Homo sapiens: one gene and its partners. The protein of the gene in region 2 purifies or fractionates together with the protein of the main gene of each other region. This does not show direct contact. Each region holds a gene or a part of one and is shown on either strand. Other genes may lie near its edges. The genes, in order: FBN2, PRDM1 and AGK.

Region 1 (3,655 bases), on a different chromosome or scaffold from region 2:
AGTGTGAGTGCCCACAAGGCTACTACCTCAGCGAGGATACCCGCATCTGTGAAGGTGAGATGAATTTGATGCCTAAAATGCTCAGTGCTGTTTAAAACAAAATGGCTGCTGAGGCCTGAGGGAAAGGCCCATCCTCACATTCTACAAAAGGCTCAATTAAGATTGGTTCATAGCTTTTTTTTTTTTCATATCAATGTAGCTAAGTTGTATGATGATAGACAAATTAATTTATGGCTCGTTGCCATAATTCACTGTATTTTTCCAGGAGGGTTGATTAAATATAAATTGGGAAAATGGGGTAGTGTGAAAACCTAAAATATTAAGTAAGTTATTAGTGAAAATATTGATAAGAATTACATTTTACATAGGAAAAATTGGTAAGCTAAAATGTGACCATTAACTTAATATTGATCAGTAATTTTTAAATGTTGGACTATATGGTATGAAGAAGTTCAAAGGTTATGCAGCTGCCATTCTTGCTTCCATCCCCCCACTTGATCACATGGTATTTCAATTCTTTTAGGGGCCTGTCTCACCACTAAACTGGGGGCTTCTGGAGACAAGGTCCACATCTTACTCATCATTACAGCCATAAGTTCTAGCTTACAGTAGAATCTCAATATTTTAATTGTGAAATGAGTGAATGCTTCTAACTGAACATTAAACATGTAGCGTAATTATTTCCATTATAACTTTTCTTTTGGAACATGTTTGATAAATGTATCTGGAAGAAATAGGATGTAATGAGGAGAACAACCAGCAGCTGCACTGCTTTAAGAATCTCTGAATAGTTACTAATTTGAAAGAAGCTACAAAGACAAAGGCTTTCCCAACCTGCATTCACTTTAAAGTTGGCATTAAAACTTAGCCTAAGTGACATAGGACAAAAGCAGGCTTTAAAGAAATTCCAATTGAAGAATGCGAATTGCAATAAAAAAAAAAAAAAAAAAATATATATATATATATATATATATATATATATATATATGTGCCAAGGAAATTATTTTTTGCCACTTTAGAATAATTTCTTTTGATGCTTTATATTTTTTAATATGGGGATTTTTTTCTTTTGAAGAAAGATGTATCTGTGTTATATAAATGCATATTTGGGATATTTTCTTTATTTCTAAGTTTTGCATAAATGGGGATTTAGAGAATCACCTATGCTTTGTTCAGTCATCTAAGTAATATAAATTCATTGAAAAAATAGATTTATTAATTAATAGATATTCTTGCCTACTCTAGATATTGATGAGTGTTTTGCACATCCTGGTGTGTGTGGGCCTGGGACCTGCTATAACACCCTGGGAAATTACACCTGCATTTGCCCACCTGAGTACATGCAGGTCAATGGAGGCCACAACTGCATGGGTAGGTAAAGAACTCTGAGATTAATTAGAGCACAGTTGTTGACTTCACACATAAAGCACTTACGTCTCAGAATTATTGTTTGGAAGTTTGGAAGTTCAGTCTTCGTGAATTGAGATATTTCAGAGTCTTGCAAGCTGCTGGCTTAGTATCAAGTTTTTGACCTTTGGGTATACATTTAAATTTTTAAAAGCATGAGTCTAATGTAGAAAATTTCCTCAAATGTTATATATTCTTAAATTTTTCATCTCCATTCATATAGTGTGAACATTAATTTACAAATAAAAGAACATTTAAATTTTAATGCTTTATTTTTTTAATTAAATAAATGATTTTGAGAGAAAAACAAATATGTATTAACATTGTCTCCCAAGAAAATTATAAGTGAAAACCTTTAAGGATAAAGGAGAGATGTTAATCTAAAAATGATTTATGTTTAAGGAGTTATTTTAAGATAGCTTCAAATGACTAAAAAGGGTTTCCGAGTTGTGTTCATCAGGAAAGCTTGATGTCTACAGCTGTGTGGGCTTCATTATAAACTACTCGTGGATACAAATGGCTAGTTTCTTTGTTTTTCTTTATATAGACATGAGAAAAAGCTTTTGCTACCGAAGCTATAATGGAACCACTTGTGAGAATGAGTTGCCTTTCAATGTGACAAAAAGGATGTGCTGCTGCACATATAATGTGGGCAAAGCCTGGAACAAACCTTGTGAACCATGCCCAACTCCAGGAACAGGTAAGCACACGGCTCGTGCATCTGCTGACTGCCACATCAGTGATACACGCATATATCTAACAGTATAGTCAAAGTCACTGCATGCTAAAACTAGAGATGCTCAGTTCCAAAAATTCCCAAGAGCATCATATGGTTCTGTTTCCCAAGTGATCCTCTTTGGGATTCAAACACTAACTTCTGAGACATTATGTTGGATAGGCTTGTGAATCCTGAAAATAAGATCCATTGCTGAAGAGTTAGAGTTGATAGCATTAGTCCATTTAAACTCATTATCTTAAACTGTGCTTGTCAATTATTGATTTATTCATCAAACAAATATTTCTTGAGTAACTACTGTATGTCACTGTGCTAGACATGGAAAGTATAATATTTGGAGAAAAACTAAATTCAATAAGGATTTTTTTTTAGTTCAGCCGTGGAAAATATGCAAAAAGTGTTTTTTATGAGCGAATTTTACATAAAAGCAACCCATTGTCATAATGTGCCTTTTACATCTTCTTCCTCAGACATCAGTGAAATTTTTAGGCAAAAAATAGAGCTTGTCTTCACTTGGTCATGTTTTTTTCACAAGACAGTTTCTTTTGAAAGAAAAAATGAAAGATAATAGAGATAAGAGCAAAAATGCTTGTCTTAAAATTGCTGTCCATCAGGCTCTCTTTTATGACCTGGAGAATGGCAACTTTTAATAACTATAGATACTAAGAGTTGAACCAGTAGGCCAAATAAGAAACAGTGATTATGCATTTGTTACCAAATATTACTTAGGGTATATGTATTTAAATGTTCCATTTAATGTATTGATGAAATTAAGGAGAGAAATGATGAAAAGCAACACATAGGCCTTTTTCAGTGGCTCCAATTCACTGGTCAAATGGATTTTCTTAGCCTTATCTTGCCATTATTATGTTCCATAAAATTAAATAGAAACATTCCTACAATTCTCAACTTTAAAACTCCATAGTTACAAATTTAAGATCATTGATTTGGGGAATTAAAATGGCACTTTCTTTGTGAGAAGAAGCGAAAGGCTTGGAGTTGAGAGACGTGTCTGTATTTAAATCAAAACTCTTAAGATACTTATTGTGGAACCTCCTGCAGAGTATGTATCCTTTCTGAAACTAATTTCTCATGTATAAAATAGGAATAATAAATAATTACAGTGACTAATTCATATGGGTGCAATGACAATTAGGGAGATTATACATATAAATTATAATTTGAAGATTTCCAGACAATTAGAAACCATTAAGTTGAGCATCTGTGGTCTTTCTATCTGTTCTCAATACTCGGTATATATTGATGGATGAAATATACAATATCCCTGACCTGATAGCACTTGGAATATAGTATGCAGTTTAAGTTTTATATAATACTGTTTTCAGGAGTTTTACTCACTTGTATAGCAGTGAGCGTCAGAAGCATTTTTCATCTTGCAAATTAGAATTCTTTTAAATTTCCATTGATTTGGTTAATTATGTGTAAGAATACTTCTTATAGTCCCTATTTTATTTCATAATGCATTGTTTTTGATGACTCAAATTTCACATT
Region 2 (3,655 bases):
TGGGTCTTGAGATTGCTGGTGCTGCTAAATCTCTTGTGGCAGACCTACAGTGTAGGGGAGAGAGACAGCAGGGAAGGGAGACAGGAAGGCCAGAAGATTAAGAGTTGCCAACGGGAGGGGCAGGCTTACCGGCCAACGCCCAGCAACCTAGGAGGTGAGAAGCCTCCTTGTGGCACCTCCAGTGTGGTATTAAGCAAACGGGGGGATGTGGGCACACAGCACACGAGGGGCTGTTTATTTCCCCTACCATTTTCCCACCCACTGGAAGCTGGCTGTGCCATCTCAAGTCATCAGCAGATACAAAGTACTGGGAAGGACCATAGTGCCATCAGTCCAGGATGGGACAACGCAGAATCTGGTGTTGGCTTTAACTACGGGCTATATAGGACATGGGAGGGTGACTCACAGACATTTTCTACAAAGGTCAGAAGGTCTACCCAGAAAATACTGCGCACCTGGCATTCATGTGGCTTTTCTCCCGTGTGTACCAGGTAGTGTTTCTGCAGGTGGGCGAGCTGAGTAAAGCCCTTGTTGCAAGTCTGACATTTGAAAGGCCGTTCTCCACTGTGCACTCTCAGGTGGACCTGGGAAGAAGCCACATGTGTTAGCTCTGCTCTCAAGCTGGCTCTGAGACCTAACATTTCTGCTCCAAGACTCAAGTGTTGATGCAAATATCTTAAGAAAAGCATCAAGACAGTCTTAAAAAGAAGAAATCTTCATGTTTTCAGAATGGTGTTTTTCTTAAAAGCACAAAAATCACAGGCTAGCAGGGAGTTTCACCTAATCTTCTAGTCCAAACCCCTAATTTTTTTATTATTCAGAAGAAAATCAGGAGAAGGGAAGTCACTTGTCCAAAGTCAAAGAGCTAGAAGTGGCAAAAGCCAGGCGGAATCCATACCCACTATCCCCAACCGGGGGCTCATACTACTGCAAATGCAATCGATACCCCATGGAAAGCAAGCTAAATACAAACACAAGCATGCACTCACAGCCCCTTGGACTGCTCTCTCTCAAGGCCTACCTTCAGATTGGAGAGCTGGCCGAAAGTCTTGGCGCAAACGTTGCATTCGTACTTGATCTTGCCGTTCTGCTTCTTCAGCGGGTAGGGAAGGGTCTTGTAGCCGGTCATGTTTCTTTTGTTTTTAATGAGATTCATGGCTTCGTCGCTGCTGGGGGCTGCCATCGCTGCTGAGGTAGCTTTGGGCTGCACCACATGTTCTGCCGTGGCGGCTGTTCCCGCCGTGGGAGACCCGCTTGTGGGGCTACAGGCCTTGTCCTTCATGCTGGCGGCGGCCCCGGTAAAGGAGAAGGCACTGTGGGGCGCCGGGACAAGCACCTCCCTGGGATGCTCCGGCTGGAGCAACCTCCGGGCTCCATCTGAGGGCAGCGAGCTCGGGAGAGAAGTGGGGTTGAGCATGGGGTGGGGCAGGCTGCCCCCACCGAGGAGATTGCTGTAGACAGGGCACAGCCTCGGGAAGAGGCCAAAGTTGTTGATGCCATTCATGCTGCTCACAGCGCTCAGGCCATTACAATTCATGCCGTAGGGGGGCAAGAGGAACTTGGGGTAGTGAGCGTTGTACGAGGGGATGAAAGCTGGCGGGAGGTGGGGCAGGGGTGCGTAGCCAGGGTAGGAGCCCAAACCTTCCGTGCCGTAGGACGCGTTCAAGTAAGCGTAGGAGTCCCGGTGCTCTTGAGAGCCGGGGCCCACAGGGGACACCGTATTCCCAGGGCTGCTGTGAGGGCTGGAGCTCTTGAGGCTTTGGTCGGGGCTGCTTCTTGCAGAGGGGCTTGGAGTGGTGGAGGATGGAATGGGGGAGCGAGTGATGTACGTGGGTCTCTCGATCCCGTAGGCCAGGGAAGCTTTCAAAAAGTCTTCTGGCAGAGGGGCCCGGATGGGGTAAACGACCCGAGGGTAGAAGGGCATTTCGGGGCTCCCACGTCTTCTAAAGTCATCGAGGTCCTTTTCTGATGTGAGGGGTGAAATGTTAGAACGGTAGAGGTCCTTTCCTTTGGAGGGGTTGGAGTCCAATTTTAGGATTTCTTTCACGCTGTACTCTCTCTTTGGGACATTCTTTGGGCAGAGTTCATTTTTCTCAGTGCTCGGTTGCTTTAGACTGCTCTGTGTTTGTGCTGAAATAAAGAAAAAGGGGCGATTACACAGAGGGCTAGAGAGAACTGAAGCAAAACTGCCAAAGTTGCTCCTCCTTCTTGAGAAAACCTGAGTAACAGCTGGCGACACAATCGCCACATATCTGGCTTCCAACGCACTCTCATTCTAGAAGGCTCTGGGCCACTCACTCAAAAGTGCAGTTCCGTTTCCTCCTCAGCAAAATGCGGACAATGGCAGCACAGACAGAACAAACAGCAGCCTTGGGTGATTCTGTTTTCATTAGTACAGACCTTATGATAGAAAATTGCTGTTTAGGCTGGAGTAAGATAGCCTAAGCTGGATGCAGTGGCTCTTGCCTGTAATCCCAGCACTTTGGGAGGCCGAGGTGGGCGGATCACCTGAGGTCGGAAGTTCGAGACCAGCCTGACCAACATGGAGAAACCCCATCTCTACTAAAAATACAAAATTAGCTGGGCGTGGTGGCGCACACCTGTAATCCCAGCTACTTGGGAGGCTGAGGCAGAAGAATCGCTTGAATCTGGGAGGTGGAGGTTGTGGTGAGCCGAGATTGTGCCATTGCACTCCAGACTGGGCAACAAGAGCAAAACTCTGTCTCAAAAAAGAAAAAAAAAAAAAAAACTTCCATTTTAATGGAGTGGAAAAATACTGGGGTGGGGACCCTGTCATAGGTTAATAAAAGTCTTTCTGATGTTCATGGTTTACCTAAAGGAAATCAGCATACCCTGAGAACTAAATGTGAAAGATTAAGACTCATTTCAAGTAATACACAGTCATCAATTTTCGCTTCTACTCTTGTTGAATACGAATTTGATAAAGCCCTGTTCAAACTGCCTATGCCAAGGAGCTTAGCGAAGTGAATACCACCTTCCTCGCGATGTGCAGACAGCCTAAGCACTTCACCAAGGCTCTGTCTGGTCTAGCCAGGATCCCAGCAGTGCTGGCCCCTGGAGTCACAAGGCGTGACAGTCACCTCTGCCAAACCACAATAGGTACTTCCTGAGCCAGTTCAATTACTTAGCGCACCCAAGAAAACAGAACAGGCTAAGAGGAAAGCACTTATTCCCAAAGACGGCACGTTATTACTTGGTAAAGATACTATTTAGGAACAGCAGCAATGAGGACAGTTCTAGACTATCCCTGCCACAGCCAGCCCTGTCTCCTCGCTACACAATAAATGATGCCTTCAGGAAAAAACACCCATCTGGGCAGGGAAAACTGAAAATTCCCTGCTCAGCCTTGCCTGGAAACCAAAAGTAAAACATACGATGTTTAGTTTGAGCTCTGATTATTGGAGGACAGTCACTCAAGCCAGGACACCTGCCCTAGGAACGCACTGAAGGCATTGGCTGTCAATGTGTGGAGATGCCTTCAGAGGCAGCAGGTTTGGGGGATCATGCTGAAGCCTTTGTGCAAATATCCTTCATCGTCTAAAAAATGTCTCTGCTTGAATTTAGTTGAGAAAGAACTCCACACTTGCTATCTGATAGGTCTAGAAATGAACTCTGTGAAACTCCAGAACTGAAC
Region 3 (3,655 bases), on a different chromosome or scaffold from region 2:
CTGTGGTAACTATGGTACAACAAATCTTGACAGCAGTGCAAAAAGCAAAGCCTTGTTCTTTTTAAATAGCCTTAGGCTTCTGCCATTTTATGAGGCCTACAGAACTCTGAACTCAGGACAGACTTCCTGGATTACCTAACAGCCCTGGGGCATGCTTATAAATTAAGTTTTATAAATTTTTAAACTATAAATAGCAGCAGCAACAGTAGTAGTTTAACTACAAGAGAAAATCAGTTCCCCCAAACTGAAGACTCTCTCAGACCCTGGGGGTTGCCACACTCTGTGTAAATTAGCTTTTGGACAGGCAAGGGGTCTCCAAGGAAAATGGTCTACCCTTGGATCAATGACATATGCTATTTGGAATACTGGCTAAAGCAATTCAAAAAATCTACACTGACACAAGGAGAAGACAAGCTCTCTAATGTAACCAACACCTGAATCAGACAGGATTCATCTTGGAAAAGCAAAAATGTGAGCAATTAACTGTCATTATCTACTGCCCCTCAGAAATTCTAAACCGGGAATAAAAAGTATGGCCAACTGACTTTGGGAGGCCGAGGCGGGCGGATCACGAGGTCAGGAGATCGAGACCATCCTGGCTAACACAGTGAAACCCCATCTGTACTAAAAATACAAAAAATTAGCCGGGCGTGGTGGCGGGCGCCTGTAGTCCCAGCTACTCGGAGGCTGAGGCAAGAGAATGGCGTGAACCTGGGAGACGGAGCTTGCAGTGAGCCGAGTTCGCGCCACTGCACTCCAGCCTGGGCTACAGAGCGAGACTCTGTCTCAAAAAAAAAAAAAAGAAAGAAAAAGAAAAAAAAAGGATGGCCAACTGAAATGGCCTCTCCTGTAGTTAGGCCCTCAGGATGGCTAATGAATAGCTGAATAATCCCCATTATATTAAGGTTTGAAATATAAAAGAAGTTTGAATGAAGATCTGACATATATATATGTGTGTATGCCTAGTGTTTTGAAAACTGGACTAAGATGCTTATTAAAATATAGAATTGTTAAAAGAGATACAGTTGACTCCTAACATTACAATAGCAAAAATAAATTCACAAAAGCCAGCCTAATCAAAGAATTCCAAAGCAGAAAAAAAAATCCTTAACCAAAACAGAAAATCACTTGGGTATTATTATTATTTATTCTAGAAGATTATAACCAGAAAAATCATGAGAAAATTTTCATTAAATCATGCAACAAATATTTATTTATTGACTTCCTCCAATGTGTCACAAAGCTTACGTTAACCATCAGGCAACTGATCTCTCAGCTATCTCTCCATTTATTTGGGTCTTCTTGACAACTATTTGCTCAAAATGATGTTATTAATCACTGTCAAAGCTCAAATTCAAGATTCCTATCTTCTTGAAAGAGCAGAGCTTTGTTTACATAATGCCTTCAAGCAAAAAAGAACAATAATAACAACAATTTGCTTGACTCCCAAAAACACTGTGAGACTCACAGCAATTTAATTTAGATGTCAGAGCTACACTGCTTTCCCAGTCTACTTTGTCTACACTGTCTACCACTTTAAGTATTCCCAAAAGGATGTGGCTATATTTACTTGTTTTAGCTATTTTTAATATCAAGATAATGAAGCCAGGCTACTAGTTCAGTCTTCACAAGGGACTTGTTATTTGTCATTGCATATACTTAAAGCAAACAAATGAGCAGCACAAATATGTCTTCACTAAAGAATCTTACAATGTACAAGCACAAAAACGGTTTAGGTCAGGGATATTATCTTCATAACTGACAAAAGGACATCAAGTATTCACCTCCCTACCTGACCTGGAGACTTATTATAAGAGTCCCACAACCAAGTTGGGAGACTTCCCAATGAACTGAAAGGCTGAACTCTGATCTAGGTCCTCCTCTTAATTATTTGAAGTTTCAGGCTATCAAAACTCAAGAAAGTTATAGCATACACATAAATTTTTCATTCCCAGTCTCGCTCACCCACAAATGCTAATTCCCCACATTGACAACCTACTGGACTTTGTTTCCACTTTCGGCAAAGAGGGTATGACTCAAACTACTGGTCTCTCCCAGTGGGATAAATCCAATGGGAATCTTACTGAAGGTAGCCTGGGGGGGGAAAGAAGAGGAAAGTTTTATTGTTATGATCAGAAAATCAGGCTTAATGGAGAAGCACAGGTGTGTCCACTATGACAAATAACTGACCCTGTATCTGCCTCCCCATCTCCTTTCCACATCCTTAGACCAGTAATCAAATAAAGCTAGGTGGGTAATTTCTAAAACAAGGCAGTCAATGAAAACAAAATGACTCAGAATTTGGAAGAAATATTTTAGTACTCATTAATGACAACTGTTTGAAAGAAATTTGGTTAAGATAATGAGGGTTTTGAAGATAATATATCAATGCACTAGTGCAACAGAGACTGTATAACATTGTCACACTATTTGATAAAGTTGCAGATAAAATTCAACTAAAAATGTCTACCATTTATACAGTGACCAATGACAGGTGAAGGTGCTTTATAAACTATCTTAAGTACAAATAAGGCAAAGAGAATAAACAAGTTCAAATAATAGATGGTACTGGCATAGCAGTTAATTAAATGCCACACATACAATAGATACTGTAAGGTTCAAAACAATTCTGAGCACAATGTACTATTACCAAAGGGACTGAGAAGGATCTTCTAGCTATTGTAGAAAAGTGCATAAAATAATGTTACAAAAACACCCATGTGCCCACAACCTATATTTAACAAATGTTAACATTTACCTTTTTGCTTCATATGTTTCAAGAAATAAAACGATAGAGATACAATGAAAGTCCCTTCTAAAACTATTCTCCTCTCTCCCTTCCCAGAGGAGACCATTATCCTGAGGTTGGTGTGATTCCTTTTCATCCACATTATTATTCTTTTGCTACATATTTAAGCATCCATTAACCATACATAGTATTGTTTTCTGAATTTTAAAACACTGTAGAAATGCATAACATACCTGGGCAACCTGCTTTTTTTTTTATTCAAAACTTTTGAGATTTAGCCATGTAGATATTTATACATTTAGTTCATTCATTTTAACTGTTAGATGATTCCCACTATATGAATATGCCACAATTTCTTTTATGAAAAAGTTCTTTGAAAAAAAGATTCCATAACAAAATTTTAAATAACCATTGTCAAAGTTATTGGATACCATCAATTACCAAACCAGAAAAGTCCCCATGTGTTAATATACGTGTTCTATGACATGGGTAGCAGTATTTTCTTTTCTAAAATTCAAGAAAGCACAATTTGTACCCGTTTTAAAATATACAATGGAAAAAAAAAGTAAAAGAAAGAAAAGCAATAAAAAAGAACAGAAAAATAAAAGTTAAAATGCAATTACTCTTTAATGCTCACCTCATCTGTTCGTCGAAGAACACCAGTAACAACCTACAAATGTAATAATAAAACATTGTTATAAATAATATGTATTTCCTTTACAATAAAAGAATTGGATTCAATTTTCATAGACCATAAACTTACTCCTGTTTTCTTCTTAGAAGCTCTGTTAAAAGATGCACTGGATCTTAAAACATATAGTATTCTCCAATAGAATCAGAGCTAAATTAGATTTTATTTTTGACCTATGATCAATAATACAATAAAGGCTAAGATAAAATAATTAT

What was found.
Region 1: the proteins of PRDM1 (region 2) and FBN2 purify together in Homo sapiens (affinity purification with mass spectrometry; one large-scale study listed by BioGRID and IntAct). This does not show direct contact.
Region 3: the proteins of PRDM1 (region 2) and AGK purify together in Homo sapiens (affinity purification with mass spectrometry; one large-scale study listed by BioGRID and IntAct). This does not show direct contact.

What each region holds. Positions count from the first base shown.
Region 1 is NC_000005.10:128,307,699-128,311,353, reverse strand, and holds part of FBN2 (fibrillin-2 precursor), read left to right. Parts: coding exon 1-54; intron 55-1,245; coding exon 1,246-1,371; intron 1,372-1,954; coding exon 1,955-2,107; intron 2,108-3,655.
Region 2 is NC_000006.12:106,103,300-106,106,954, reverse strand, and holds part of PRDM1 (PR domain zinc finger protein 1), read right to left. Parts: intron 2,131-3,655; coding exon 1,022-2,130; intron 585-1,021; coding exon 456-584; intron 45-455; coding exon 1-44. UniProt on the Homo sapiens protein: Transcription factor that mediates a transcriptional program in various innate and adaptive immune tissue-resident lymphocyte T cell types such as tissue-resident memory T (Trm), natural killer (trNK) and natural killer T (NKT) cells and negatively regulates gene expression of proteins that promote the egress of tissue-resident T-cell populations from non-lymphoid organs.
Region 3 is NC_000007.14:141,613,910-141,617,564, reverse strand, and holds part of AGK (acylglycerol kinase, mitochondrial isoform 1 precursor), read right to left. Parts: intron 3,420-3,655; coding exon 3,387-3,419; intron 2,095-3,386; coding exon 2,000-2,094; intron 1-1,999. UniProt on the Homo sapiens protein: Lipid kinase that can phosphorylate both monoacylglycerol and diacylglycerol to form lysophosphatidic acid (LPA) and phosphatidic acid (PA), respectively. Does not phosphorylate sphingosine. Phosphorylates ceramide.